Linked DNA regions of Homo sapiens. The protein of the gene in region 7 interacts with the protein of the main gene of each other region in a pairwise test. Each region holds a gene or a part of one and is shown on either strand. Other genes may lie near its edges.

Region 1 (4,625 bases), on a different chromosome or scaffold from region 7:
GAGGTTGTCCTCCGCACCCTCGAATACCTGGACACGGCTATGTGGCTTCAGCAGCATCTCCCTGGGGAGGGAAAGGTCAGCACGCAAGAGATGGGGTGGACTCCTCTCCTCCCACCTGATCTCTCAACTTTACAGGTGATGGGGGCATGAACGAAGATGCCCACTGACATGCATCCTGGGGCCAGGCCAGATCCAGGAGAAATGGGAAGCGGGTGGGGAGGGGAGGCCCGATTCAGCCTGTGTCTGGGCCCAGGTTTCCCTCCAGATAGATAGAGGGAGGCAGGCCCCCATGGCTCCTTACTGCTTGCCGGCACGCTCCATGGCAGCACGGATCCCCTTGGGAACGCTGATCACGCCCTGCACAAGATGCTGGCCCAGTAGTTCCTCAGCTGCAGCTGCCATACCCAGCACAGCCTTGCCAAAGCCCACCAGGTAGAGGTTTTGCCTCAGCTGAAAGTTCCGGTCCCGCACCTTCAGCTGTCTGCCACCAGGGTCCAAGGATAGTGCCCGGTGCAGCATGGGGCCCGGCAGCACTGCACCTACAGCACTCTCAAACAGCTGCCTGGCCTGCTCTGCCAAGGCCATGCTGCTGGCCAGACGGGCCACTGAGCCCCGCCAGAGGAGTGGATGCAAGGGGGCTCGGGCCAAGCGGGGCAGGACCTGCAGGGCTGCAGCCATGCCCCACTGCTCTCAGCACTGCCTGGCACCCATGGCTGCCTAGAGGGAAAAAGCACAACTGAGGCCCTTGCAAGGCAAAAGACAGGAGGTCCCCCACGGCCGCCCCTCTGAGGGCTCAGGGCCAGTGGACCCCACAGCTGCTGCTACAAGAAGGAGCCATCTGATAGCCCCAGGAGACTTCCTGAAGCCTGCAGCTGCAGGATCTTACTCGTCCTTGGAGACCAGCCCTGCCACCCAGCCACGTCCTCCTCTTCTGCAGACCACATGCCGGCCCTCTGGATACTCTGCCTCAAGTCCAAAGTTCCTATTAGCTGGGCCCTCCTCCCAGGTCACCCCTTTGGCTGGGAGTTAATCATTGACAGAGGGAGTAATTTCTACCAGTGGGCTCCCATCCCACCCCTTTTCCACCCCCTGCACTTCTGCGCTGTTACCCTGGGGCAACGCCCCTTTCTGGCACTCCTTCCTTGCCTCTTTACCACCTCTGCTGCCAGGAAGCTGTTGATTGTCCCACCAACTGACCCTGAGCCCATTGACCTCCAGTCTTCTCTATTTCATTATCTCATGAGACTGGGATTAGGAGCCTGGGAAGTCAGGGTCTATAGGAGGCTGCAGGTTTATCAGGTCAAACCCAGAACACATCCTCAGGGCAAGCAATCTGAGGAATCTCAGTATGCAGGACCAGTTCAGCAAGAGGTTTAGGTTCAAATCAGGAGTGAGGGCAAAGTCTGGCTCATGGTGGAACCTTAGAAAAGTCCCCAGGCACCATGTGAGGCCATGTGCCATGAAGCCCAATTGCAGGACAGAAAAGGATGCCCTTCTACCCACACAGTTGGCCAGACCCAACCCTGCCAAGAACACGCCTTCTGGTTCCAAGATAACAAAAACAAGTCCTAGGTCACACCACCCACAGTGGTGAGAGCCCAAGGGCTGAAGTAGGCAAAGGCCAGGCTCCCATAACTGAGCCCATAGCCATTTTCCCCACTGGGCAGAGTAAAAGCTAAAGAAGCCTTGGGGCGAAGGTCAGGAAGCTGTAGAGGGGTATAGGAACAACAAAGACCCAAACAGCTCATCTGTACTACATATGTACTATTGCATCTACTTTAATAAATGCCTACCATAAATGTTGCAAGCTGACTTCATCAGCAAGTATGGACTGAGCAGGGTAAGGAGGCTGGGAATTGAGGTTCCAGCTCTACTATAGGCTTTCTGAGTGGCTGGGACACCTCCATTTCTCTCACTGGGCCTCATCCGCAAAATGAGACATGGGGTGAGATTAACACTACGCTCTTCCCTTAACAACCTCAGGCTCTCTGATACTGTCCACTGCAACACAGATCTCAAACACCGGTTTACCCCACACCCAAATATGGTGGTTACTTCTAGACTTTGACCATTTTGCTTGCCTAGTTCTCAGCTCTCCGGTAAGAAAAGACAGCCATGCCTGACTTCTGTTGTGAAAGGGAACACAGAGGGCATCGTCATGGGGATTCCGAAAATGGGTCCAGTTTTGGCCAGGGGGACCCCTGGAGCTTGCCCATTGGACTTGGAGCTAAAAGCATCTTAGCAACTAAGACAGCCGGTCTTTATAGCCTGGATGAAATTTGTATCTATTTCCCAGATGGACAAGAGCCTAGAAGATCCCAGCCTTGCCACTGGGTATGAGCACAGGACAGGGGGACGCTCAATGCTAAGGCTGCCAGAGAAAATACAGGACTTCCGGTTAAATTTGAATTTCAAATAAACAAGTAATTTTTAAAGTATAAGTATGTGCATACAATGTTTAGGACTTAACAATTATTCGTCGTTTATCTTAACTCAAATTTAACTGGACGTGGCCCGGCGCAGTGGCTCACGCCTGTAATCCCAGCACTTTGGAAGGCTGAGGCGGGCGCATCACCTGAGGTCAGGAGTTCGAGACCAGCCTGACCAACGTGGTGAAACCCCGTCTCTTCTAAAAATACAAAAATTAGCCGGGTGTGGTGGGCGCCCGTAATCCCAGCTACTCGGGAGACTGAGGCATGAGAATCATTTGAACAGGGGAGGCGGAGGTTGCAGTGAGCCGAGATCGCGCCACTGCACTCCAGCCTGGGTGACAGAGTGAGATTCTAACTCAAAAAAAATGTAACTGGACGCTTTGCATTTTTATTTGCTAAGTCCTCCAATTCTATCCAAGACACGGTCTCTCCGAAACTCCGGGAGGCTCCAGAGCAAAACAACGGAAATAGGAAGACTACCGGTCTTGACTCCTCCCCGCCATCAAAGAAGGCTGGTACCATTTCCGGCTTTCCCTAGACAGTAGGGGGCCGGAAGTGACGTCATCCTAAGGTAGGGCCTTAGCGAGGGAAATGGCTGCCGCGTAATGCCCGGTGATGCGAGAAAGAAGGGCCTGCTGCCACCAGGACCCGTCATCGCCCAGCCCAGGGACCGCTTCTGAAGGCCATGCGAGCCCTGGCGGCGCAGACTTACCAGCCCACAGCTCCGGCCGCGGTGCCCAGCGCTGGAGAACGGAAGTACTAGGGGGTGGGCGGAGCGGAAGCCGGAAGTGTGGGTGGGTGGAGCGGCGCAGGCGGGTGCGAGCTCTGGCTGAAGCCGGTGTCCGGGAGGGGAGAGTTTAGCATATTGGCTCTTTGCTGGCCACTGACAGACCTGGAAGGAGTCACCTTCAGTCCTCATTTTTTAAATCTCTACATTGAGGGTAATAATCCCCGCCTCACCGATTGCCGATTTTTTTTTTGAGACGGGGTCTCATTCTGTCGCCCAGACTGGAGTGCAGAGTCGCGGTTTCGGCCCAATGCAACCTCCGCCTCCCGGATTCAAGCGATTCTCATGCCTCAGCCTCCCGAGTAGCTGGGATTACAGGCATGTGCCACCACTCCGGGCTAATTTTTGTATTTTTTAGTAGAGACGGGCTTTCGCCATGTTGCCCAGGCTGGTCTCGAACGCCTAACCTCAAGCGATCCACCCACCTCAGCCTCCGAAAGTGATGGGATTACAGACTTCAGCCGCCGCACCCGGCCTCTCCCTTCCTTTATCCTGTACGGTCAGTCAGCAGATGCACCCTGAGTGTCAGGCACTGACTGGGCTGAGCAAACGAACTGAGAATCACTACTTCCCCACAACTCACCCCTTCTGGAGCCAGATTAAGTAATTCCCGCTCCTCTCCATGGCTTTTATTCCACAACTTATTATTGTTCTTCCCTCTCCCACCATGGGCCACCAAATACAGCTCTGGCTTAGCAAGAGTTCCATTCTGCGATCCTCAAGCACATAAGCGGCATGTAAACGCTAATGACTCTGGGCCTACCTCGCTGTCCCTACTCTCATCCGGGGCCTACCCTGTGTTGGCTGGATGCCTTCCCACATTCATAAGATGAGTCCTGATCAGACTCCAAAAATACAAAACAGTTCACTGTTTTTACTGATGTTTTCTTAGGGAGATAGAGGAGAGAGTTGCATCACAAATCACACACTTGATTTCCTAACAATTTTATTGAAACATGTTTCTTGGCAGGGCGCAGTGTTTCACGCCTGTAATCCCAACATTGGGGAGGCCAAGGTGGGCGGATCGCTTGAGCCTAGGAATGCGAGACCAGCCTGGGAACATGGCGAAACTTATCTCTACCAAAAAAAAAAGAGCCAGGTGTGGTGGCATGCTCCTGTAGTCCCAGCTACTCAGGAGGCTGAGATGGGAGGATCACCTGAGCCTGGGAGGTAGAGGCTGCAGTGAACCTTGATCACGCCACTGCACTCCAACCTGGGCCCCTGTCTCAAAAAAAAACCAACAAACAAAAACACATTTCTTTCTCTTGGTTTTGAGGTGGAGTCTTGCTCTGTCACCCAGGCTGGACTGCAATGGCACAGTCTCAGCTCACGGCCACTGCACTGCAGCCTGGGCACGATGTCGGCTCACTGCAACCTCCGCCTCCCAGGTTCAAGCAATTCTCCTG
Region 2 (4,131 bases), on a different chromosome or scaffold from region 7:
TGTTACCAGAATCCCCTCTTTCAATCAATAACTCCTGAAAGCCACATCATACCCATAGCTGATTCATGAAAACCTTGACTCCTGGTCAGGTCACTCTTACCTGGAAATGAATGGGGCTTAGGCAAAGTTTAGACACTGGGACAATTATATCGATTCAGTTGAATTGAACACACACGAGTGAGAAGGGAGGGAAGTGAAGAGAGTGGGAGAGAGAACCCACAAACAATAAGCAAATGAGCTTATTTGCTTATTGTTAGCAATAGATAAATCTGGGTAAATTGTATGTATGGGCATTCTTTATACTATTTTGCTTTTTATACTTCTTTTGCAAATTTAGAATTATTTCCAAATAAAAAGTTTTTTCAAAAAAAAATATTGTGAATGAAGGAGCTAGAAAGAATTCCAAGAGCTTCACAGTATAAACTTGGGTCAGTTTGGAGCTGTGTCAGTATCCTGGTGATGGGAGTCACCATGATAATTATACTGCACTAACAGCCATAAATGGGTAATTCCAAAGCAATAAAAGCTAGATTGGTTATGTGGCAAACCTGGGAGAATGAGAGAGAATTTCCTTATTGCTTACTCCGCAGGGAAAAGGAAAACAGTACAGGATTTTTGTTGACAAGGCCAGTTGGAGGTTTGGTGGGTGTTTTCCCATCTGTACTTTCAAACAAGCAGAATGTTATCAAGATCCTCTCCCTCAGTCAGTAACTCCTGAAAGCCACTATTTACCCATAGTTGCTTCATGAAAACCTTGACTCCTGGGTCAAGTCAGTTTTGCCTGGAGATGAAAGCAGTTCAGGCAAAATTTATACATTGGGACAATGACATCTATTCTGTCTAACGGCAGAATTTCTCCAGATGAACCAGGCAGTAGCACCATGGGTCTGGAAGAGGAAGGGGTGCCTAGTGATCTCTCAGTGGGCTTTCAAAGGCCATCATGTCTGATCTTGCTCAGAGGGGTCTTGTGCCCCCAAAGGTGGCTACTACCCCGGCTCACCTCCTATGGGATCCACTGTGGAAGAAGTTGGCTCCATCTCCTGTCCACACTGAAGTTGGCCTAATGGATATGGCAGGGGTTTACTCCCTTCCCCACTGGAAGATGGAAAATACAGCATGGGTTTGTTCAAGCATACTTCCCAGGCACGCAGAAACCACCCCCTCAACCTCACCTGCTTCTGGGATGAGTTAAAGTACAGATTACACTTTATTCTCCAATCTCTAGACTGTGGAGTCATGAAGCCGAATGCTTCTAACCTTTCCTCTGATAAAGATGGACTGTTTGGGGGACTTGGACATTGACCTATATGATGAAAGCTGTCTGCCTGTTTACCAGCATGTGTAAAATCAGATTGGAACACTGTACAGAGAATTAAACTCAGGTGGCAAAATAGGCTTGTGGTCGCAGACACACTTTATTCTATTTCTTTCCTGGTCATGTCACATTATGTTATTTCCTGGAGAAGGGAAAGTCAAGAACAAGAGCCTACTTTATCTGCACTGGGTCTGGAAGTTCTGTCTGGTCATGAGTCAAAGCCTCATAGTAGAGAAGGATCCATAGCAGAGAAGGGTCCGTAGCAGAGAAGACAAGCATCAGAGTGGGAGATGGGTAGCAAATGAGAGAGAGGCAGAGTCTCAGCTGGCTATGTGCACCCCTAGAAGAAGCTGGAGACAAACAACCCCTGAGCTGCCAGCATAGACTACTGAGGTTAGACAAGAAGATAGCAGCCCTGGGTCCCAGGACTTTGAGGGGCCAAGAGCCCCAGTGCTGCCCTACAACTGTTTAGGGCACAGCCTGGCCAGGGCTGGAGTGAGTCACTGAGAATATACCCAGCTCTCCAACCTGTGGGTCCTGCCACCAATTCATGTCAGCAACCTTGGTCTCAGTTGATAACGTTTTAAGCCCCTACAATGTTCAAATCACCATGCTGAACACTGTACATGTATTACCTTATTTGCACTCATGACAAGCTCCCCCTCTTTTAACATAAGGAAATGGGCTGAAAATGCTGCCTTGCCAAGGTAAATTTCGAATTATTTCCAAATAATTTTAATAAAATTATTTATTTTATTTTTATAAAATTATAAATATTAAATTATAGATTTTAAATTTTATGTATAATTTATAAATTATTTTCAATAAGCGGTAGAGCTAGGATTTGCAGCCAGGACAGTCTGGCTCCAAATCTCATATACATTTTGCTCCGCCACACTGTGCATAAATAAATGTGTACACAGACACACACACACACACACACACACACACACACACACACACACACACACACAGCATGTTGGATTTTCTAGCTTCAAAGAAGAGCTTAGTGTGGCTTGTCATAATTGATTCTAGACATTCTGAAGTCACATTTGCTTCGAAAGAAGTAGTGGTATTGACCTAAAGTAACTGGTGTTCTATCACGTGGCTGAGATCGTCCCCAGTCTGGCTGTGTATATTGGCAGGGGCTCTTGTTGGGACCTCAGTATCCTGGTTTGAGCTGCCAAGAAGGTCAGATTTGGTAAAAGCTGATGGGCTACATGAGAGGGAACTGTCAAAGGGCTGGGCTGGCTCCAGTGTCACGGAATGTCCAGTCTCTTACACCCTGGGTCACTTGCCACCTTCTCTCCCCTGTCTTTGCAGCCAACCTCGGTTTGAAGTCCAGGGCAGTGGCTCCTGCGGAGCAGCCAGCATACCAGGGGCCAGTGCACTGCATTACAACCATTGTGAGGAATGAGGGCCTGGCGGGGCTATACCGGGGGGCCAGTGCCATGCTGCTGAGGGATGTCCCAGGCTATTGCCTCTACTTCATCCCCTACGTGTTCCTGAGTGAGTGGATCACACCTGAGGCCTGCACAGGCCCCAGCCCCTGTGCCGTGTGGCTGGCGGGCGGCATGGCAGGTAAGGGCAGCAGCAGCTGGAGCCGCACCCCTGTGCAGGCCACAGCAGTGGGACAGCTGGGGAACTGCCATGCCCTTCTCAGCCCAGGGGGAGGGCAGGACACATTTAGGTACTCACCCAACAATTCTTTGTTAGGTACCTACTCTGTCCCCGGCCCTCTCCCACCTCAGTCTCATCCCTTCCCTATGCAGCTATGAGAATGGCAGTTCCCATTTGACTTTCAGGCAACAGATATATTTTGAACACATACTCTGTGTCAGGCATTACTAAGCTTTGGAAAGGAAATCCATTATCATGGTTCAGTTTATTAAATGCAATCTTTGTAATGTAAGGATGCCATTAGTTCTACAAGGTAGGAATCGGTTTCCCCATTTCACAGATGAGAAAACTCAGGTCCAGAAATGTTAAGTAGCCAATCCCAGGTCATACAGCTGGAGCTGACAGTATAGCAGGACTCTGCAGTCAGAAAGATTTAAGTTCAAATCCACACTTCATCATTTTGTGACCATGGACTTGTTGCTTAACCTCCCTGCTCAGAATCCTGCACCACATCCTTCTTTCATTTAAGGTAAAAGTTGATATCTTTGCAATGGTTTTCCAGGCCCTCAGTGATCTAGCTCCCTGTTCCCCACCCACCTCACTTCTACTCCTCTCCCCTTCCTCACTTTCTCCAGTCACACTGGTCTCTGCTGCAACTTGACCATGCCTGGCCCTTCCCTGACCACAGGGCCTTTGTACCTGCTACTCACCACCTCCTGAATTTAACAACGTGGAGACCACTGGGGATTTTGGCAAGGGCCATTTGATGGAGAGAAGGGTGTAAAAACCTGATGAAGTGGGATAAAGAAAGAATGGGATGAAGGATATTGGTGCACCCAAGTATACACAACTCTTCTGAGGGTTCTGCTATGCTGTAATGAGGAACAGAGAAACAGAGCCATAGCCAGAAGGGCCTTTGGAAGCCAAGAGAGGATACTTTTTAAGAAGGCTGACATCATGACATGTTTGATGTGATGGGAAAGATCTAACAGAAAGAAGAAAATCATGAATCATCCTCCTCCTCCTGCTCCTCCTCCCTCTCTTTCTCCTCCTCATCATCACAGTTTGCCATGCTGTCAGCTCATAGCAGACATATAACGAAGCTCATGTCTTAGCCACCTAACTACAGTTTCACGTTCTGGCCCCCAGGTGCCTGTGCTCATGCCCAGCTCCTAGTAAGAGCTCAGTCAGTACCG
Region 3 (4,877 bases), about 48 Mb from region 7:
AGGAATGGGGAAAAATCACTTTAATGAAGGCAGGAGAGCATTAATGGTTTCGTAGCCAAGAAGGAAAGCAGTGCTCATCCTTACCTCATGGAGCAGGAGTGAGAGGCCCTGGTTAAGAGAAGCTGGGATCTCAGAGTCACTGTGGGTCACACTTGCCAACATGGCCACATGATCTCTCTCTGCAGCCACTGGAAACTGAGTTAAGAGGTAGGGAGTGGAGGTAGGGGTAGGGGTTCATTCCTTAGTAGGAATACGGCAAGATTTCCTAAGGTCTTCCTTCTTCCCACCACAAGGCAAAGCTCTTCTCTGCCCAAAACTACTACTATTCTCTCACCTTTCCAGTCGCCAGAGAGAAAAGCAAGACACCCAGGGACCACCAATCAGCAGCATGGTTGTAAGGTCCTCCACTTAGGACCTCTGGGGCTACAGATTTCAAAGATACTCATCACAGACATCCTTTAGCTATCCTCCTGCCCAATGCTTACCCATCAGCTTTAACCTCTCTCACCCATGTACTGAAGAGTGCCACAGATAGTGTAGGCTTGAGCTCCCTGGGGCACGTGGCGGGACAGACCAAAGTCTGTCAGTTTCAGATGGCCTATGAAAGAAGGTAAGGCAACTGCACCACTGTTCCACCCATCATCAGCCATGATTTATTCCCAAACCAAAGTACCTCTCATCCTGGGGCTAAGGAAGGAAAAAGACTTACCTCGTTCATCTAGAAGAATATTCTCCATCTGAAAGATCACAGGTGAGAAGTAATTCTTCCTCTTCCTTTCAACTCTCTTTCATCATGTATACACCCCAGCTGAAGGTGATGCCCTACTCAGCACTCAAATCTATACTCAGAGAGCCCTTCCCCAAATCCTTGGCACCCATGGGGGCCCCAATGTCTACAGTTCTCAGCTCCCTAACTTCTTGGACTTGTTGGCACTTCTTATTGAGACTCTTTCTCAGACAAAGGGAAAAAAGCACTTAACTCTACCTTCACATCTCGATGCATGATGCCCAAGTCATGGAGATAACCTGTGGATAACAAGTATGGGGTATGCTGCAGCTTTTCTGTCCTTTCCAGTTTCCCTAGTAGCCCTCATCCCATCCCTATCCTATTCTTTAACTTCCATTATTAATATTAATTTTTTACTCTCCTTCTTCCGAACTTAAATCTTCCCTCCCCATTTCCTTTACCACTGTTTCACTTACACAGTACCAGCACCAACTCGGCAGCAAAGAGACGGATGGAAGCCTCAGGAAAGCAGCCAACAGCCGACCAAAGGGAGTACAGATCTGTGCTGCAGTAGCTACACACTGCAAAGCCAGTGTGGAGCTACATACATTGCCAGAAGTCTAGGCAATGTTTGGGAGCTGCAATGCCTGGGCTCAAGGCATTGTAGGCCTCCTGCCCAAACTGATACCACCTGCTGTTCCCCTCCCTTTGGGACAGAGAGGTGCCATGAGAAGGGGGACAGAGCAAAGGCAGAACAAGCCAAAGAGGTAATCTCAGGTGGGGAACATGGTACAAAGACCCTGGGGGATGAGGAGAGAGTCCAGTCACTCACTAATGAAAAGGTGCCGTTTTCCCTGCCAGCTGTCCCCCAAGCTGTGTACAAAGGGATGGTTGATCTGTCGCTAGGAACAAAGAAAACAGGAAGTTAGGGAGGAACAGGGTCATTGAGAATAAAGGCAGCTGAGAAATCAGGTTTTACCCAGATGTGCAGAGGGGGAACTGCTGCCTCACCTCTCAGTTCAGAGGAACTCAATATTTGGAACTGACTATCTGGTAATCCTAGAACCAGCAAATACTAAGGAATACACTGGGACATGCTTCAGAGATTTCCCTAGTAGGACATGGGAAAACTGTGTTGAGAGCTGATACTTTTCCCAGGATCTACTTTAGTGTTAAACTAGGCTGAAGCAGATGGATGAGGCAGAACCAGGAAAAGAAGGTGGGCAAGAAAGGTACTTTCCCTACCTGTGGCCTAGCTCTTCCCACAATCCTTTCCAGGACTCTGTGCATACCTGGATGCTAACCTCCTCTTTGCACTGCCTCACGGTATCCCTCTGTAGGACCTTTACCTTGGGCACCACCTATAAAAGGAGAGTAGTGATGACTCATAGATAGTGCTATTGAATTGTTTATTCCTCCCAACCTCTCTGGAATCAAGATTGGAAACAGAGACTAATGTGGTATCTACGCCCCTACCTTCACTGCAAATACAGCTTTCTGGGTGCAATCTAGCACCTTGAGGACAGTTCCAAAGGAGCCTTTAGCCACGAGGCCTAAAATCTGTACAGAGGAATGGAGAACAGGCCAGTTGAGACTGGTCATTTTTAACTTCTCCCAAAGACTGAGACCCCACTCAGGGATTCCACTGACTTACCTTCAGCTGCTGCTGCCCCCTAATGGGCCTAATGGGAAACTCTGGTAGAAAGAGGTTGATGAACTGAGGCACTGGCCACTCTGGCAGAGGCTTCTCTACCAGTACTGGGGCTGGCTTTAGGGATTCCTGGTGCAGATAGTGGTGCCCCCGTAGTTCCCAGAGTTCTTCCAGATCTGACCTGATGGTTCCCAAACCTGTCCAGAGGCTCTTCCAGCCTCGGGCCCAGGGACCCCGGATGTTGCCACCCTGCTGAGAACCAAGGGAGCCACTCTAAACTTTCTGCTCCTGAGGCATAGCAGGTTCCACCCATCTTACTAGGCACTCCCTCCCCTTAAGTCTCAACCCCTAGAGGTACATTTTTGAGCATGAGGCAAAATTCCCATTACCCTTGCTTTGTGCTAAGCCCCAGATTTCCTGGGCACAATTCAAATCCTCTAGGAAAATAATTGTTGGACATTTTCACCATGACGCATTAAGAGTACAGCCTGCACCTCAGTATTGGGCTGTGATGCTTTCATAGTACAGCCTCCCTGCCCCACCCCCACATTGGGTAATCACTTCCATGCTCCTAACCAGGAACTTCCCAGGACTCAAGCCCATGTCTCCCTCTCCTCCCCTCAGTAGGCTGCCAGAGCCCCACAGCCTACCTTGTGAGGGACAGCCACCCGGGTGTGTTCCCCCTGCTGGGTGTGCTGCCCCTGCCGACAGCTTACTGCTCCCATTCCCAGCCTCTGCCTCCTCTCTCTGCTAAATCTGCTGTCCCAGTTATATAAGCAATTCCTCTCCCTGATGCTGCGTGACACGAGCCCCGCCTCTTCCAGTCTGCAGAAACCCATCAGCATGGGGCCAGAGTCACACTAGGACTAGAAATTTCTGTGATACAGCTTCAGGGCAGAGGAAGGAAGGGGCCACCCTCAGAGTGGCAGCTGCAGGATGTTCTGGGTTGATGAGGGAGGAATACACAGATTGAATGCATGCACTCAACACACACACACAAAAATGAGCATCAAATTTAAAATATCTTTTTTTTTCTCTTTAAATCATTTTGCCATTCTCCAGGGTATATCCTACGGGGAAGGGTAGGGGACCCATGGCCAGCCCTGGCTCCTACTGCCATCCTCCCAAGTGAACTTAGCACAGAGACTGGGGAGGGGTTGACCCCCACTCCAGAACACCAATACCTCTTTCAAACATGACAGTGGAGTGAGGATCAGAGGATCAGCCCCCTCCCGTTTCCTGGCACAGAGGAAGGACAGTTACACTTAGAAATATATATATAATATATATATATTTATATATGTCTATAAAAATTTATCACACTTGATCAGGACTATCCCCCTACCCTTTCACTTGACCCCAAGGGAATAGGGTCCTGCCCTGGGCCCATTCCCTGGGTCTTGCTCTCTTGTTGCCTCTCTGGCCCTGAGCCTGATCAGTGTGAGACAGAACTCAGCATTACTGTCCACCATGCCCTGCAGCGAACAGACCAGGTGCTGAAGAGTGATGCCTATGGGCTCTGACACCCACAAATCCTCGTGGATAACGGGAAGCCCCTCCCACCCCACAAGTCCCTGGAGCCTGAGCCAGAGTCAGATCCTGTACTGCAGCCACTCGAATCGCCAAATCATTTGCGCCTGCCAAAGATGGACTTCTTGCCAGGGTTCTTGTCGCCCACACTTAAACCAATGAGGAGCCGGGCTTTCTCCTCCTCTTCCTGCTGTTGCATGTTCAGGTCCGATTTAGTTTCTAGCTTTCCCCGGACCTCAGAGCCTGTTGCAGACTTCAGCCTTAGCTTCTCTTTGATTACCTGGCAGATTGGAGAGGAGTAAAAGAAAATGTAAATATTAGTGGGCAGGCAGAATAAATCAAAATGAACCAAGACAATAAAGATTTATTAAACACATCCAAGGCACAATGGGGCAATTCACATACAATGGTCTCTGCTTTCAAGAAGCTTACAGTCTAATTATAACCCCTTCTAAACTTTAGGTTGTGTTAGCTCTCAGTTCCCTAAAATCAATGGTGCTATACGAAACACTCAGTAAACACTGAATTTAATAATCTGAGTGAGGTCATGGAGAGGGTAGGCATAGAAGCCACTCACTTCATGCACCTGCCCCTTCCCAAGGATATTTATTCATGGATTCTAAAATGAAAGGCTCCTGAAAAGAGGATCTGCCTGCCAGCCCCATTAGCCAAACAGCCATGAGCCCTGGCGGGATACCTGGGCAACCAGGGCTTTGCGGCTGTCCCTTTTGACAGCCATGGCAAAGTCTAGCCATGTCCATGTGTTGTTGTGGTACTCCAGACAGGGCAGCACCAGGTTAAGGTCACCCCAGTCCACACTGTTCTTCTCACCCTGTAAGAGGAGGGGGAGGGGAAAGAAAAAAAGAGGGGTGGGGAATACATCAGCTGCCATTTTGAGTCCCAGCCAGCCACTTGAGTGCCAAGTCCTACAATAGTAACCTACAGATACTGATTTCCCCTTACCTCAGC
Region 4 (3,210 bases), on a different chromosome or scaffold from region 7:
CCCACTAGGGTGCAGCCTCCAGACGCAGCCCCCTCACTCCCACAGCTCAACTTCATCCTCTTCATCAATATCGTCCGGGTGCTCGCCACCAAGCTGCGGGAGACCAACGCCGGCCGGTGTGACACACGGCAGCAGTACCGGTGAGCCCACCATGCCTGCCATGCCCTGGCTCCTCAGGGGTCCCTGAGTCCTGGTACCATGTACCCCAGGAAAGACAGTGGCCCCATGAATGATCCTGGGGCAAGGGAAAGGACCCAGCGTCTGACTCCCTGGCTGTCCTCACCCACCTGGCCTGCCCAGCAGTGATGGGAGGCCCTAGGGCACCCCAAAGCCAGCCTGCCCACTTGTACCAGGCCCTGCACTAGAGCTGGAGTCTGTGAGTGTGCAACGAACTTGAACCTCTCCTCAAAGAGTTGGTTGCAGGGGGTCTGAGGAACAGGTAGGCGGTGAGTGGCCCCGGGAAGGCTGCAGCTCAGCTGAAACCTGAGGAGCGGACTGTGGGATAGTGAGGTTCGACCGTGGAGGGGAGTGCTTGCCAGCTGAGGGCTCCACAGGTGCGAAGGGCCCAGGGACAGGGGGACTGTCATTTGAAGTCCGCTCCGGGACACCGCTGAGAACCAACGGGCCCTATTAGCACTTAGCCAGGACAGCAGCCATGCAGGTGAACTGGGTTGTCCTCCCATGGTGACTGGAGCCCTGGGCCCCTTTGAGCTTCCGGAGCCTGGGGCTCGCAGGGTGGGGGGTGGCACAATGCTTGTTGAAGGGGAAGTGGCTTGGCCCTGACCTACCTGCCCCGCTGGCCCAGGAAGCTGCTCAAATCCACGCTGGTGCTCATGCCCCTCTTTGGCGTCCACTACATTGTCTTCATGGCCACACCATACACCGAGGTCTCAGGGACGCTCTGGCAAGTCCAGATGCACTATGAGATGCTCTTCAACTCCTTCCAGGTGCGCAGTGCTGGCCCGGGCCTGGCTGAGGGTGGGAGGGGTTCCGGGGGCAGGCCTGATTCGAGACACCCCTCTTCACAGGGATTTTTTGTCGCAATCATATACTGTTTCTGCAATGGCGAGGTAAGCAGGAGACAGTGTTGGCATAGGGCAGGGTGGGGCAGATACCCCAGAGGCTTCCTCAAGGCTCATTTCTCCATTCTTCCACCCTGTTATTTCTTTGTTCCTCCAAGAACACCCCTGAGGACATTCTGAAAGCAGAGAAGTCTTTCCAGATGATGCAGGTTCAGGATGTGCTAGGATGTGGGGACTCTTCAGTCACTGGCATAGCCAAGTGTCTTCCCAGCCCCATGGTTCAATTATCTGTGACCCAGATTGGAGGACTCAGCCACCTTTGGGGCAATTTGAGCCTTGTAGATTCTGGGTGTGTCGGCTGCCTGTAGCCAAACACCCTGTTGTGAGGATGGGATTTCACTTGGCCTTGGAGTTTCCCAGGAGTCCCCTATTCCCATTTTCATTCCGTGCTGGGTGTCCAGGGGCCGGGATGGGGCATCGCTGGGGTTGGGAGACACACCTGACTGCCGCACCCTTACTGCCCCAAGGTACAAGCTGAGATCAAGAAATCTTGGAGCCGCTGGACACTGGCACTGGACTTCAAGCGAAAGGCACGCAGCGGGAGCAGCAGCTATAGCTACGGCCCCATGGTGTCCCACACAAGTGTGACCAATGTCGGCCCCCGTGTGGGACTCGGCCTGCCCCTCAGCCCCCGCCTACTGCCCACTGCCACCACCAACGGCCACCCTCAGCTGCCTGGCCATGCCAAGCCAGGGACCCCAGCCCTGGAGACCCTCGAGACCACACCACCTGCCATGGCTGCTCCCAAGGACGATGGGTTCCTCAACGGCTCCTGCTCAGGCCTGGACGAGGAGGCCTCTGGGCCTGAGCGGCCACCTGCCCTGCTACAGGAAGAGTGGGAGACAGTCATGTGACCAGGCGCTGGGGGCTGGACCTGCTGACATAGTGGATGGACAGATGGACCAAAAGATGGGTGGTTGAATGATTTCCCACTCAGGGCTGGGGCCAAGAGGAAAAACAGGGAAAAAAAGAAAAAAAAAAGAAAAAGGAAAAGGAAGCGGTGTGTGGCTTCCTGTGGCCCAAACTGGGGACTCACTCCGAGAGGGTGGGGCTGGGAGCCAGGGAAAGCTGTGGCGGGAGGGCCATGAGTCATGGAGGAATCCTCAGGTCTCACTTCAGAATGGGGAGGGATCTGGGGCCTGTGGTATCCAGCAGAAAGGGCCCAGAGTGGCTCAAGTCTGCAGGGGTCACACAGCAGCCAAGTGGACCCATGTGGAAATCCAGCCTCAGCCTCCGTTGCTGCCAGCTGTGGAGCTGCTCTCCACACTTGTACCTAGACCCCATGGGGGACCCAGGCTCCTCTGGGCCAACTCTTCTGACTGCTGCCCCCATCACTGCCACCCAGGGCTGCTGGCAGATCCCTCGGGTCCCTGGCCACACCCCCAAGCCTACGGCCCTGCCACAGAATGGACCTTTCCTGGCTGTCCAGTGGCCACTCAGGGAGCCCTCCACGCAGGAGCCTTAGCATCCACCCGTGACCTGACATGCCTCTGTGACTGAGGTTGCAGTAGGAGCACCAGGCCAGCAGGTGAAGGGTGGGCTGGGTCCCTGCTCTGGCTCAGGACTTGTGGGGAGCCAGGAGTCTGAGCCCAGAGGGCTGGCTGGGCAGGGGCCTGCAAGGTGGGACACATCCATTCACTATGCATCTGGGACAGTCACTAAGTGTCCTCACCTGACACCCACCTACCACCTTACTCACCCCCCCGGACCGTGCCCTCTCCCACCTTGGGCCATTCGTGGGCCCCAGAGTGGCACAGAGCCCCTCAGCCCGACACCCTGAGGACTGACCCTACAGCATGCCCACCCCGGGCTCTGGCCTGAACGAGCTTCTTGCTCTTGCTCCAGCCTAAAGACAGCCCCGCACGAGCCCTGCCCTGCCTTCCCATCTCCCGCTCAGCCCGTCTTACTCTTCTCCACGGACTCGGCATCCAGGAGTGCACCTCATCTCCAGCAGCCCACACACACCCCATAGGGCATAGGGGAGGGGTCAGGAGGCCCAAGACAAAAAACTCAGGTGGGCGTTAGGAGGTGTGGGTGCCTGCTGAGCAGCCCCACACCCAGCCCTGCCTGCCCTTCCAGATGACGGACAGGACCAAAGGCTGTCCAAGGGCCTGGTGCACCCGTGGAG
Region 5 (4,131 bases), on a different chromosome or scaffold from region 7:
CCAGGTCCCCTTGAGGAAGGACCCCACTACATTACTGACAATTTATGTAGTGAATCTTTTTTTGATATGCAGCCTTGCTCTGCCGTCCAGGCTGGAGTGCAGTGGTGCGATCTCAATTCACTATGCCGTGAATCTTTTTCCCATCCTTCCCTATGGAGACCTCTGGCCTTTTACCAAGGTAACTGTGTACTGGGGAAAGGGAAATGATCAGACATTTTGGGGACTACTGGACACTGGCTTTGAGCTGAGGTTGATTCCAGGGAACCCAAAACATCATTGTGGTCCTCCAGTTAAAGTAGGGGCTTATGGAGGTCAGGTAATTAATGGAGTTTTAGCTCAGGTCTGACTTACAGTGAGTCCAGTGGGTCCCCAGACTCATCTTGTGGTCATTTTTCCAGGACCAGAGTATATAATTGGCATAGACATACTTAGCAGCTGGCAGAACCCCCACATTGGCTTCCTGACTGGTAGGGTGAGGGCTATTACGGAGGGAAAGGCAAAATGGAAGCCATTTAGAGCTACCTCTAGCTAGAAAAATAGTAAATAAAAAAAAATCGCATCCCTGGAGGGATTGTGGAAATTAATGCTACCATCAAGGACTCGAAAGACGCAGGGGTGGTGATTCCCACCACATCCCTGTTCAACTCTCCCATTTGGCCTGTGCAGAAGACAAATGGATCTTGGAGAATGACAGTGAATTATTGTAAGCTTAACCAAGTGGTGACTCCAATTGCAGCTGCTGTACCAGATGTGGTTTCATTGCTTGAGCCAATGAACACATCTCCTGGTACCGGTATGCAGCCAGTGACTTGGCGAATGCCTTTTTCTCCATTCTTGTCCATAAGGCCCACCAGAAGCAATTTGCCTTCAGCTAGCAAGGCCAGCAATATACCATTACTGTCCTGCCTCAGGGGTATATCAACTCTCTAGCTTTGTGTCATAATCTTATTCGGAGAGACCTTGATCGCTTTTCGCCTCCGCAAGATATCACACTGGTCCATTACACTGATGACATTATGCTGATTGGATCCAGTGAGCAAGAAGTAGCAAATACATTGGACTTATTGGTGACACATTTGCATGCCAGAGGATGGGACATAAATTTGATTAAAATTCAGAAAACTTCCACCTCAGTAAAATTTCTAGGGGTCCAGTGGTGTGGGACCTTTCAAGATATTCCTTCTAAAGTGAAAGATAAGTTGCTACATTTGGCCCCTCCTCAAACCAAGAAAGAGGTACAATGCCTAGTAGGCCTATTTGGATTTTGGAGGCAACACATTCCTCATTTGGGTGTGTTACTCTGGCCCATTTATCGAGTGACCTGAAAGGTGGCCAGTTTTGAGTGGGGTCCAGAACAGAAGGCTCTGCAACAGGTCCAGGCTGCTGTGCAAGCTGCTCTGCCACTTGGGCCATATGACCCAGCAGATCCAATGGTGCTTAAGGTGTCAGTGGCAGACAGAGATGCTGTTTGGAGCCTTTGGCAGTCCCCTATAGGTGAATCACAGCAGAGACCTCTAGGATTTTGGAGCAAGACCCTGCCATCTTCTGCAGATAACTACTCTCCTTTTGAGAGACAGCTCTTGGCCTGTTACTGGGCTTTGGTGGAAACTGAACATTTGACTATGGGTCATCAAGTCACCATGCGACCTGAACTGCCTATCATGAACTGGGTGCTTTCTGACCCATCTAGCCATAAAGTGGGTCATGCATAGCAGCATTTCATCATCAAATGGAAGTGGTATATATGTGATTGGGCTCAAGCGGGTCCTGAAGGCACAAGTAGGTTATATGAGGAAGTGGCTCAAATGCTCATGGTCTCCACTCCTGCCACCCTGCCTTCTCTCCCCCAGTCTGCACCAATGGCCTCATGGGGAGTTCCCTATGACCAACTGACAGAGGAAGAGAAGACTAGGGTCTGATTCACAGATTATTCTGCACAATATGCAGGCACCACCCAAAAGTGGACAGCTGTAGCACTACAAGCCTTTTCTGGGACATCCCTGAAGGATAACGGTGAAAGGAAATCTTCCCAGTGGGCAGAACTTCGAGGAGTACACCTGGTTGTGTACTTTGCATGGAGGGAGAAATGGCCAGATGTGCGATTATATACTGATTTATGGGCTGCAGCCAATGGATTGGCTGGATGGTCAGGGGCTTGGAAGAAGTATGATTGGAAAATTGGTGACAAAGAAATTTGGGGAAGGGGTATGTGGATAGACCTCTCTGAGTGGTCAAAAACTGTGAAGATATTTGTACCCCACGTAGGTGCTCATGAATGGGTGACCTCAGCAGAGGAGGATTTTAATAATCAAGTGGATAGGATGACCCGTTCTGTGGACACCACTCAGCCTCTTTCCCCAGCTGCCCCTGTCATTGCCCGATGGGCCCATGAACAAAGTAGCCATGGTGGTAGGGATGGAGGTTACTCATAAGCTCAGTAAAGTGGACTTCCACTCACCAAGGCTGACCTGGCTACAGCCACTTCTGAGTGCCCAGTTTGCCAGCAGCATAGATCAACACTGAGCCCTCGATATGGCACCATTCCTTGGGGTGATCAGACAGCTACCTGGTGGCAGGTTGATTATACTGAACTTCTTCCATCATGAAAAGGGCAGAGGTTTGTCCTCACTGGGATAGATACTTACTCCGAATATGGGTTTGCCTATCCTGTATGCAGTGCTTCTGGCAAAACTACCATCTGTGGGCTCATGGAATGCCTTATCCACCATCATGGTATTCCACACAGCATTGCCTCTGACCAAGGCACTCACTTTATGGACAAAGCAGTGCGACAGTGGGTTCATGCTCATGGAATTCACTGGTCTTACCATGTTCCCCATTATCCTGAAGCAGCTAGATTGACAGAATGGTGGAATGGCCTTTTGAAGTCACAATCGTAGTGCCAACTAGGTGACAATACTTTGCAGGGCTGGGACAAAGTTTTCTGGATGGCCATGTAATGCTCTGAATCAGCATCCAATATATGGTACTGTTTCTCCCATAGCCAGGATTCACAGGTTCAGGAATCAAGGGGTGGAAGTCAAAGTGGCACTACTCATCATCACCCCTAGTGATCCACTAGCCAAATTTTTGCCTCCTGTTCCTGTGACATTACGTTCTGCTGGCCTAGAGGTCTTAGTTCCAGAGGGAGGAACACTGCCACCAGGAGACGCAAGAAAGTTTCCATTAAACTGAAGTTAAAATTGCCACCTGGACACTTTGGGCTCCTCCTACCTTTAAGTCAACAGGCTAAGAAGGGAGTTATAGGTGCCCACCACCACACCCAGCTTATTTAAAGAAAAAATATTTTTAGTAGAGATGAGGTTTCACTATGTTGGCCAGGCTGATCTCAAACTCCTGACCTCAAGTGATCCGCCTGCCTGGCCCTTCCACAGTGCTGGGATTATAGGCATGAGCCATTGTGCCCAGCCTGACCTAGCTGTTCTTTTAAAATTTACCAAGACTATTTTTGTTATTTCCTCACAGATTTCATATGGCAATGGAAATTACCTTCACATCATTTTTTTGCAAATGGCTTCATGCATCCCATTGATCTGCCTTTATGTCTGCCGGCTCCATCTAATAATCAGAGCTGGACCCAGACTTTACCTGCTCTAGGAAACATTCCTTGATTTAAGACTCACAAATATACATATAGTACATCCACCCCTGGTGCCTTCTCTAACCAATTATTTACTCAAAATCTCCACTTAGATGTTTCATAGTTCCTCAAACTCAACATGTCCAAACCTGAACACAAGACCTACACTCTAACCACTCATATTTAATTTCTTTACCCAAGTTTATCTAGGTCAGTGAATGGACACCTTGGTTACCCAGTTGAACAAGCCAGAAGCTTGGAGGTCATTCTTGAAGATTCCTTTCCCTCACCCTGATAGGCTACCATTCACAAAGTCTGGGGGATTGTATCTCCTAAATATCTCTTGCATTGAGATACTTCTTTTTAACCCCACTGCCTTCATCATAATCTAACTTAACAACTTCTCATACCTGAACATTCGAATTATTTGACTCAAGTCTACTTGCATCTAAATCCCAGGTATATCTGACATCCATCTGATCATATCAATTCATCAAATGGTTTCACACTGCTCTTAGGGTAAGGAATAA
Region 6 (4,131 bases), on a different chromosome or scaffold from region 7:
CCCCAGGGGACATTACTTCCAAGACACTGTCACCAGCCCGGTCAATTCCCTTATCCTCTGTTGTTCTCCTGTCTGTACCCAAAGGGATCCCACTAGGGCTGAACTGAGCCCTCTGTACTTTGACCTGGACTACTGGGTTGCAGCATGTTTTGGCAAGTGACCAGCAAAGTGCTGGCACATGCTGCCTTCAGCCTGTAATGAGGGTGGCATCACGCAACCTTGAGATTTCCAATCTCAGCCAGGTCCCTACTGCTCCAACCCTAGACAGCTACTTTCCCCCTCTCTATGGAGGGTACCGCAAACCTTTACAATACTCGCTCATGAAACTCTTGCCAACTCCCCCACTCGTGGCCCCAGCCTTCACAGGGCCCCTGGCTTCCTCCTCATGATCGTTAGGCAAGTGGTTCCTGCACCATCACCTGTAACCCATCCTTCTCTCTTCTGCCCCAGCTCACCATTGTGTTCTGCCCACTCATTCCCACACTTTTCAATTTCTCCCTCTATTTTCTTTTTTCTTCCCTTTTTTTTCCTTCTGACCAAAAAATCTGCTCAGTTCTCTCATTTCTAAAAACAAACCCAAACTCCTAACTTTTCATTGGAACTCCTGCTCTGCTTCCTTCTTGCTTCTGTTGTCAAGGCTGTTGCAGGGGCAGTCTCCACTTGCATCCCACCCACACCTCAGTCTCCCATGGCCACATTCATCAGATCCACCAATGGTACCCTGACCGTCATGTCCTGACCTCCTTTTAGTCCTCCCCTTTCTAGACCTCTTTGTGTGGCCTGGCGCTGAGGACGGCTCCACCGTCTTCAGAAGTGACCCATCTGCCCTGGACTTCCTGGACTTTTGGTCACCCTCCTTGCAGTCTGCTCTCTGCCTCACCCCCACCTCTGGGGGCCTTGCAGAGCACACAACACTGATTCCATTTGAGATCAGTGAACGGGCTATCTCTGGTACCACTGTCAGGAGGCAGAAGCCTCCTGGCCCTGCACCCACCTATACTCACCTTCTCCACAATGAAGGCTGTGATGCCCCGAGAAGCTGGCACAGCAGCCAGATCTGTCTTGGCATAGACAATCAGGACGTCAGCATCAGGGCCATTAGTGATCCAGAACTTGTTGCCATTCAGGATGTAGTGATTTCCTAAGGGCAGGATGTTGGCTATTTGCTCAAGCCATCTTGGCCTGTCTCAGCCAGGCCATAGACCTTCTGCTGAGCAAGAAGCTGTCCACCTTTGAGAAAGTTCTGGAAACCCAGCAGGGGCCACCCACAATTGTTGCTCCATTATCCTGATAATGTCTGTACCTCTGCCCATTTTGGCTCCCAAGTTGAGAGTGGCCTCACCTTTCTTTTCCGCTTTGAGCTTCATAGAGACAACATCAGAGCCTGCATTGGGCTCACTCATGGCCAGGGCTCCGATGTACTCACCACTGATCAGCTGCAAGGAAAACCCCCAACAGGCCTTGTTACAACCTCAGAGTACCCTAGAGCAGCTCACTGGTACTGCCTCTTCCTGTCCACATTAAACCCCTTCAAACTTCGCTCTCAGACCAGGGTGTCGGTAAAGTCCTAGAAGTCTCTTCTAAGCCCAATGGCTACAAGGCTGAAAATGCCTCTCCTTTTTCCATTCCCTTTGCAAAGGAAGCTAGTCCTACTCTTCCATTTCTTAGAGTTCTCTTCAAATGTTGTCTGTCTGTTGTTCAATGCAAGAGTTCTGGTCCTATTTTTATTATTTTTGGCTCAAGTATTTTAAAGCAATCCATGGCCCCTTCCTAACCACATTTGGTTCATGGCAGCATGCTACAGAAAGCAGGTCTGACTGGCCCCCAAGGGGAGAGGGTATCTTTTAGTTGGTGGTTGCACTGTGAGATTAGCGTGTATTACATTTCCATTTCCTCACCTTCGGGAGATACTTCTCTTTCTGGGCCTCATTCCCATTGCGTACAAGCTGGTTGATGCAGAGGTTGGAGTGGGCACCGTAACTGAGCCCCACTGCTCCGGAAGCTCGGGATATCTCCTCCATCACCAGCACATGCTCCAGGTAGCCCAGGCCGGAGCCGCCATACTGAACTGTGAGTGGTGTGGTACAAGGGAGTGGAAAACGCAGCCCAGATTAAATCGGGACATTCATTAAGAATCTTACATTTGACGGCAGAAGGGAAGCACCTTGTAGCACCTACTCCAAATTCTCTCTAGCAACAAGAATAAGCTGATGCCACAGACCTGCTTACAAGCTCAGTGGACTGGTTTTGCCTGCTGGTGCTCCTCAGCTGAGGGGTGATTCAGAAGGCAATCATTGCAACTTCTGCTTTATCCCAGACAGACTTCTTGATGAAGATACGTGAACAACCTGAGCACCCACTACTCAGAAAGTTACAGAAATGCAGAGGCAGATGAATAAATGAAGAAAGAGGGCCTGGAGAAAAACAAAGGCATTGGGGTGGAGGTGGTGTCCAAAGCACCAAGAACAGATACAAAGCCAGAGGATCTGATGTGTCTGCAAAAGGCCTGAGGAAGGTGAGATTTTATAGCATAGGGCTGAACCCAAAGAAGCAGGACTGGAGGCCAGGCATGGGGCTCACGCCTGTAATCCCAGCACTTTGGGAGGCTGAGGTGGGCAGATCACGAGGTCAGGAGATCAAGACCATCCTGGCTAACACGGTGAAACCCCGTCTCTACTAAAAATACAAAAAATTAGCCGGGCATGGTGGCGGGCGCCTGTAGTCCCAGCTACTCGGGAGGCTGAAGCAGGAGAATGGTGTGAACCTGGCAGGTGGAGCTTGCAGAGAGCCGAGATCGCGCCACTGCACTCCAGCCTGGGCGACAGAGTGAGATTCTGTCTCAAAAAAAAAAAAAAAAAAAGAAAGAAGCAGGACTGGTGACAGGACAGGAGAGCCACAGCCTCAGGGAAAATCTTGAGGTGAGCTGTACAGCAGAGGGCAGATGAGATGCTGGCAGAGAATTTCAGAACTCCTCATAAAATATACGGTTTTTCCTTGGCAGCAGATCCAAACTCCAAGTGGCTGAGACACCTGATACCACCCCCAGCCCTGCTGATTGGGTCAAGCCTAGCAAGGTCCTATACACATGTTCACTCTGACCAATAAGTCAGGCTCGTTCTAGGCTCTAAGGAAACCTTGACCTGCCCCTACAACTGCAGGAAGGAAAGCCTGAAGGCAGGTGACATTAGAAACAGCCACCATGACATCATGCAGAAACCAGAACTTGTAACCAGCTTTCTTTTTCAGGTTCCCTTGAAAGAGTTTTCATCTGATTTCTTTTCTTTTTTTTTTTCAAGAGGCGGGCTCTCACTCTCTTATCCAGGCTGGGGTGCAATGGTGTAACCATGGCTCATTGCAGCCTTGAACTCCTGGGCTCAAGCGATCCTCCTGCCTTGGCCTCCCGAGTCACTCGGATTATAGGAGCCCACTACCACACCTGGCCATTTTCATCTGATTTCTAACTGCCTCTTTCTTCCGTAAAATACAATCTGATTCAGAAGCATATTGTCTGCAGGGAGTGGGGTACATAAACCCCCAAAACACAGTAGGAGAGTCTTGCTTAGGAGTACCCAGCAGCCTTTCCCCTAATGCTTTTACATTAAGATGGTTTCAATTAATCTTCAAGTGGTTTCATTTTATGAAAGGTGATATAACTTTCTAGGATGTAAGGAGAAGTATATTGGGTTCCACTCATACTCTCATGCCCAGAGTGAATACAGGCCCAAGCAGGCTGGGCTTTTTTTTTTGAAACGGAGTTTCGCTCCGTTGCCCAGGCTGGAGTGCAGTGGCACAATCTCAGCTCACTGCAACCTCCGCCTCCCAGGTTCAAGCAATTCTCCTGCCTCAGCCTCCCGAGTAGCTGGGATTACAGGGATGTACCACCATGACCAGCTAATTTTGTATTTTTAGTAGAGACAGAGTTTCTCCATGTTGGTCAGGCTGGTCTCGAACTCACGACCGCAGGTGATCCACCTGCCTCGGCCTCCCAAAGTGCTGGGATTACAGGTGTGAGCAACCACGCCTGGCCTAGGCTCATCTCTTTACCGGGCACTGCAAGCCAGTCTGGGCCTCTTTCAGACGTTAATATCATCCAAACCAGAGCCTGCTAGCTCCCTGCCTTCTCCCTCCGGA
Region 7 (4,131 bases):
GCCCGGCTCGTCTCCAGCTCTGAGCCTGCAGCAGTGGAGGTTTCCCTGCCTCTGCACTCTGTCCTTGAAATATTCATTCCAGGCTGGGTATGGTGGCTCACACCTGTAATCCCAGCACTTTCAGAGACTGAGGCGGGAGGATCACTTGAGCCCAGGAGTTGGAGACCAGCCTGGGCAATATATTTTCTACAGAAAATTAAAAAAAAATTAGCCGGACGTGGTGGCTCATGCCTATTGTCCCAGCTACTTGGGAAACTGAAGTGGGATGATGGCTTGAGCCCGGGAGGTTGAGACTGCAGTGAGCCATGATTGCGCCACTGCACTCCAGCCTCTGTCCAGGGTGGCAGAGTGAGAGCCCTTCTCTCTCTCCCTCTCTCTCTCTGTGTATATAAAAAAATATTCATTCCTGTCAAAGGAGTGTCCATCTTGCCCCTGTAGGTCAGCATGGAAAGCAGCTCCACGGGCTTCATCTGGACTGATGTCAGAGCCTGGCAGACATCAAATCGGCATGTTTCTTCTTGGAGGGAACCCAGGCATTCTCGGTGGGAGCACATCACTGCCAAAAGGGAGAACACTGGTTCTTGAAACAATCTTAGCTGTAAGAAACCTCCTAGACGGGCAATAATGAGAAAAGGTTGATGTGCCCTGGTCTAACCCAAGTCCCTGTGGCTGCTGCTTCAACCACATCAATATCAGTGCTGATCACGAATGCAAACAGTGCTGATGTCACACAGGTGCCGCTGGCCACGCACTTTACAGCTCTCTTCATTCAGTCCTCACCATGGTAGCTGCCCTTATGTCTTAAAAGATGAGACTGGTGAGCACAGAGAGGCTCGGTGACCTGCCCAGGGTCACATAGCTCATAGGGGTCTGAGCTTCCTCTCATCTCCTTGTATCATACTGGTAATGAACCTTGATGAGTTTTGGATAGATGAAAAATACTCCTACTTCCTTCTTCCTGAGGACTTTTTGAGCAAATGAAGCAGGTAGCTTTTACGTCTCTTCTCTTTCTTTGTAATCTCACAGAAGGCTGTCGTGCATTCAACTTTGTGCTCCAAAAAGCCATGTCCAAGTCCTAGCCCCAGGACCTGTGACTATGACCTCATTTGGATATAAGCTCTTTGCAGATGTAATCAAATTAAGAGGAGGTGCTACTGGATTTGGATGGGCCCTGGTTCCATGGCTGGTGTTCTTATAAAGAGAGGAAAGTGGACACAGACACACACAGGGGAGAAGGCCGTGTGAAGGCGGAGGCAGAGGTCGGGGTGGAGCAGCCACGGGCTGAGGAACACTGAGGGCTGCTGCTACCTCTGGAAGCTGGGAGGGAGGCCTGGGGGAGGCTCCCCTAGAGTCTAAAGGCGCCGGCCCTGCTGCCACCTCGCTGTCTGATTTCCAGCCTCCAGAGCTGCCAGAGGAGAAATGGGTGTGGTTTTAAGCCACCTGGTTTGTGGAAATTATTGCAGTCACCCCAGGAAACTAACACAAAAATGGTGGCATTTTTTATTTTAAGAGTTTTATGTTTGTTTGTTTTTGTCAAAGTTTGCCTTGGGCACTGAACTAGAGTGAGAGGACAGACTGGATTGTGTGTGCATGTGTGCGTGTGTGTGCATGTGTGTGCATGTGTGTGTGTGCGTGTGTACATGTGTGCGTGCGTGTTTGTGTGTGAGTGTGTGCGTGTGCACGCCTGTGTGCATGTGTGTGTGCATGTGTGTACATGGGGGGCTTGTTCCCCATTCCTGTCATCTGCCTTTTGTCCCCTCCACTTCGGTGTCTGCTTTGCTCCCACCTGTCACCCTGACTAGTCCCCCGATGTGTATGGGGCCACTGCCCTTTCTTTCCTTAGGAAAGGTGGAGGTGGGAGAGTGTGATGGCTGTAGAGGGCGGGTGGCCATTGAGGGTTCCTGCTATGCCTTCTCTAGTGGACAGCTCACTAGGCTCAGAAGAGGAGGAGAGGTGGGGTTTGCAGACCCGAACGGAGCCCAGGTTGGAAAAATCCTTCATCGAATTCCCATTATGTGCAGCCATAAAGACCAGTACCTTGTATAGGGATAAACGGAGCTTAAACTGGGCCTGCAAAGCCACGGGGTGAGGTGAGAATCAAAGGAAACCGAATTAATGTGTTAAAAAAAAAAAAAGGCAAGCAGCTTCCTGGAGAAAGACCCCCAGGGCTATCTTTGTGTGAGAAGATCTGCCAGCTGAGGGGAATCCATCTCAATAGAAGTTTGCAATGAGATAAATACTGCATATGACGGCTAATAAATGTCCCTGAGAGCTGAGTAGTAATCAACACAGGAAATAAATCCTCCAAAAATAAAAGCAACACTGGTATCGATGGTGAGGTGGAGGGCTGTGGTGGTGGCAGTCACCTCCTTTAAGATCCTGGGAAGGATTTGTTCTCAGGAAGCCAGTGATAATTTACCGGAGTTTTAATACCTGGCAAGTTCCCAGGCTTCTGCGGGTAGAATTTATTTTGGCACAATATGGCCTCTTGGGAGGAAATAGAGACAGACTCGGAGAGGCCCGGCTGTGCCTAGGAAAAGGCCTCTGTCACCTGTGTGACCCCTGGACAGAACCTAGCCAGGCTCTTGAATGGAATTCCTCTGCCTGTTTCAGCCCCATGCACTGCCCTTCAGCACACATGCAGTAATGCACGGACATGCCTGACACGTGCAGATAGGGTCACATGTGCAGATATGGGCACACGTGCCATTGTGGGCACACATGCAGATGTGGGCACATGTACAGTTGTGGCCACACATGCAAATATGATTACATGTGCAGTTATGGGTATGTGTGCAGTTGTGGGCGCACATGCAGTTGTGGGCACGTGTGCATATGTGGGGACATGTGCAGATGTGGGCACCTGTACAGTTGTGGGCACACGTGCAGTTGTGGCCACATGAAGACATGTTCTCTGACTGCTCAGGGAAGGTGGACATGAGGCCTGGGGCCGAGGGGTGGGGGATGTCCACTAAAGGGCTCTCTGCAGATATGATCACACATGCAGTTGTGGGCACAACATGCAGTTGTGACCAACATGTGCAGATATGGGCTTTCCCGTATGTCTGTAATGTGTGTACTGGATGGGGTGGGCTGCCAGCTCCATCTTCTCACCCGATTCACTCCCCACCATTTGGTCTGCTTGGGGTCAGGGTTTGGGAGCCTGGGGCATTGCAGAGCCTGCCGCCTTTGCCTGTGGGCCTTACTGGCAGGACCCTCATGGGAAGGTCACCCCGGCCGGTTCTGTGGCTCACCTCTGGCTTTTCCCACTTAGGATGCCCCCTGGGGCCGGCCTCATGGAGCGGATCCAGGCTATTGCCCAGAACGTCTCCGACATCGCTGTGAAGGTGGACCAGATCCTGCGCCACAGTCTGCTCCTGCACAGCAAGGGTGGGTGCCAGGGGGCGGGGGTACCCTCTACCCCTAGGGGGCCAATGAACTGGGTGCTGGGTGGGCCCTGGGAGGGTGGGACACTTGGGGTGTGGCCGACTTCTCCTGACAGCAGCTCTGCTGGCTCTTCGGGGCCCCAGTTTAGGCTTTCAGCAGGACAACTGGGGGTTCACTCCCTCGACCCGGCAGGAGGGCGCTGAGGACAGAGGAGGTCCCTGGAGTCTCAGCTTCTGGGGTCCACAGTTCCAGGAGTGAGGCCACCTGGGGAAGGGTCCCTCGGCGGCCCCTCCAGTCCCTGTGATGTGGGGAGCAGCGAGCTGGGGGCTGCAAACCTCATTTCTGCCTCCTCAGAAAACGCTGGGGATGCTTTCGGGTGGGTGCATGAGGTCTGCCCATCCAGGCAGCTGCTGAGTGGCTGTTCGCACCAGCTCCTCACTGCATCTGAACCCCCTGAGGAGGCCGGGGGCAACCTAGGCCCGGGTTGACCTTGTGGGTGGGTTGTGCGGCTGATGAGCTTTAAGGTGGGAAAGCCTGGCAGCGGATTGTGTGGGAAGCTGCCTCCCGCACGCAGGCCTCCCTCCCTGGGCTCCTCCTTGGACCAGGGACTTCAGCAAGGTGACCTCTCCCTACAGTGTCAGAAGGCCGGCGGGACCAGTGTGAGGCACCCAGTGACCCCAAGTTCCCTGACTGCTCAGGGAAGGTGGAGGTGAGGCCTGGGGCTGAGGGGTGGGGATGTCTACA

The links.
Region 1: the proteins of MGAT5B (region 7) and GLYCTK interact in a two-hybrid assay, tested with the Homo sapiens proteins (one large-scale study listed by BioGRID).
Region 2: the proteins of MGAT5B (region 7) and SLC25A48 interact in a two-hybrid assay, tested with the Homo sapiens proteins (one large-scale study listed by BioGRID).
Region 3: the proteins of MGAT5B (region 7) and RSKR interact in a two-hybrid assay, tested with the Homo sapiens proteins (one large-scale study listed by BioGRID).
Region 4: the proteins of MGAT5B (region 7) and PTH1R interact in a two-hybrid assay, tested with the Homo sapiens proteins (one large-scale study listed by BioGRID).
Region 5: the proteins of MGAT5B (region 7) and PLEKHG7 interact in a two-hybrid assay, tested with the Homo sapiens proteins (one large-scale study listed by BioGRID).
Region 6: the proteins of MGAT5B (region 7) and IVD interact in a two-hybrid assay, tested with the Homo sapiens proteins (one large-scale study listed by BioGRID).

Annotation. Positions count from the first base shown.
Region 1 is NC_000003.12:52,286,396-52,291,020, reverse strand, and holds the start of GLYCTK (glycerate kinase), read right to left. Parts: upstream 3,194-4,625; 5' UTR 3,145-3,193; exon of another isoform or gene 718-3,144; 5' UTR 679-717; coding exon 302-678; intron 62-301; coding exon 1-61.
Region 2 is NC_000005.10:135,868,823-135,872,953, forward strand, and holds part of SLC25A48 (solute carrier family 25 member 48), read left to right. Parts: intron 1-2,638; coding exon 2,639-2,896; intron 2,897-4,131.
Region 3 is NC_000017.11:28,611,059-28,615,935, forward strand, and holds the start of RSKR (ribosomal protein S6 kinase-related protein), read right to left. Parts: upstream 3,128-4,877; 5' UTR 3,104-3,127; coding exon 3,029-3,103; intron 2,631-3,028; coding exon 2,382-2,630; intron 2,288-2,381; coding exon 2,204-2,287; intron 2,089-2,203; coding exon 2,020-2,088; intron 1,630-2,019; coding exon 1,560-1,629; intron 1,309-1,559; coding exon 1,204-1,308; intron 1,027-1,203; coding exon 986-1,026; intron 738-985; coding exon 710-737; intron 599-709; coding exon 509-598; intron 424-508; coding exon 335-423; intron 196-334; coding exon 85-195; intron 1-84. Other genes in the region: BLTP2 (bridge-like lipid transfer protein family member 2 isoform 1 precursor), read right to left, coding at 4,006-4,188, 4,606-4,740.
Region 4 is NC_000003.12:46,901,721-46,904,930, forward strand, and holds the end of PTH1R (parathyroid hormone/parathyroid hormone-related peptide receptor precursor), read left to right. Parts: intron 1-45; coding exon 46-140; intron 141-805; coding exon 806-947; intron 948-1,028; coding exon 1,029-1,070; intron 1,071-1,549; coding exon 1,550-1,936; 3' UTR 1,937-2,079; downstream 2,080-3,210.
Region 5 is NC_000012.12:92,709,061-92,713,191, reverse strand, and holds part of PLEKHG7 (pleckstrin homology domain-containing family G member 7), read right to left. Parts: intron 1-4,131.
Region 6 is NC_000015.10:40,408,565-40,412,695, reverse strand, and holds part of IVD (isovaleryl-CoA dehydrogenase, mitochondrial isoform 1 precursor), read right to left. Parts: intron 2,069-4,131; coding exon 1,899-2,068; intron 1,437-1,898; coding exon 1,343-1,436; intron 1,142-1,342; coding exon 1,005-1,141; intron 1-1,004.
Region 7 is NC_000017.11:76,899,281-76,903,411, forward strand, and holds part of MGAT5B (alpha-1,6-mannosylglycoprotein 6-beta-N-acetylglucosaminyltransferase B), read left to right. Parts: intron 1-3,274; coding exon 3,275-3,390; intron 3,391-4,022; coding exon 4,023-4,096; intron 4,097-4,131. UniProt on the Homo sapiens protein: Glycosyltransferase that acts on alpha-linked mannose of N-glycans and O-mannosyl glycans.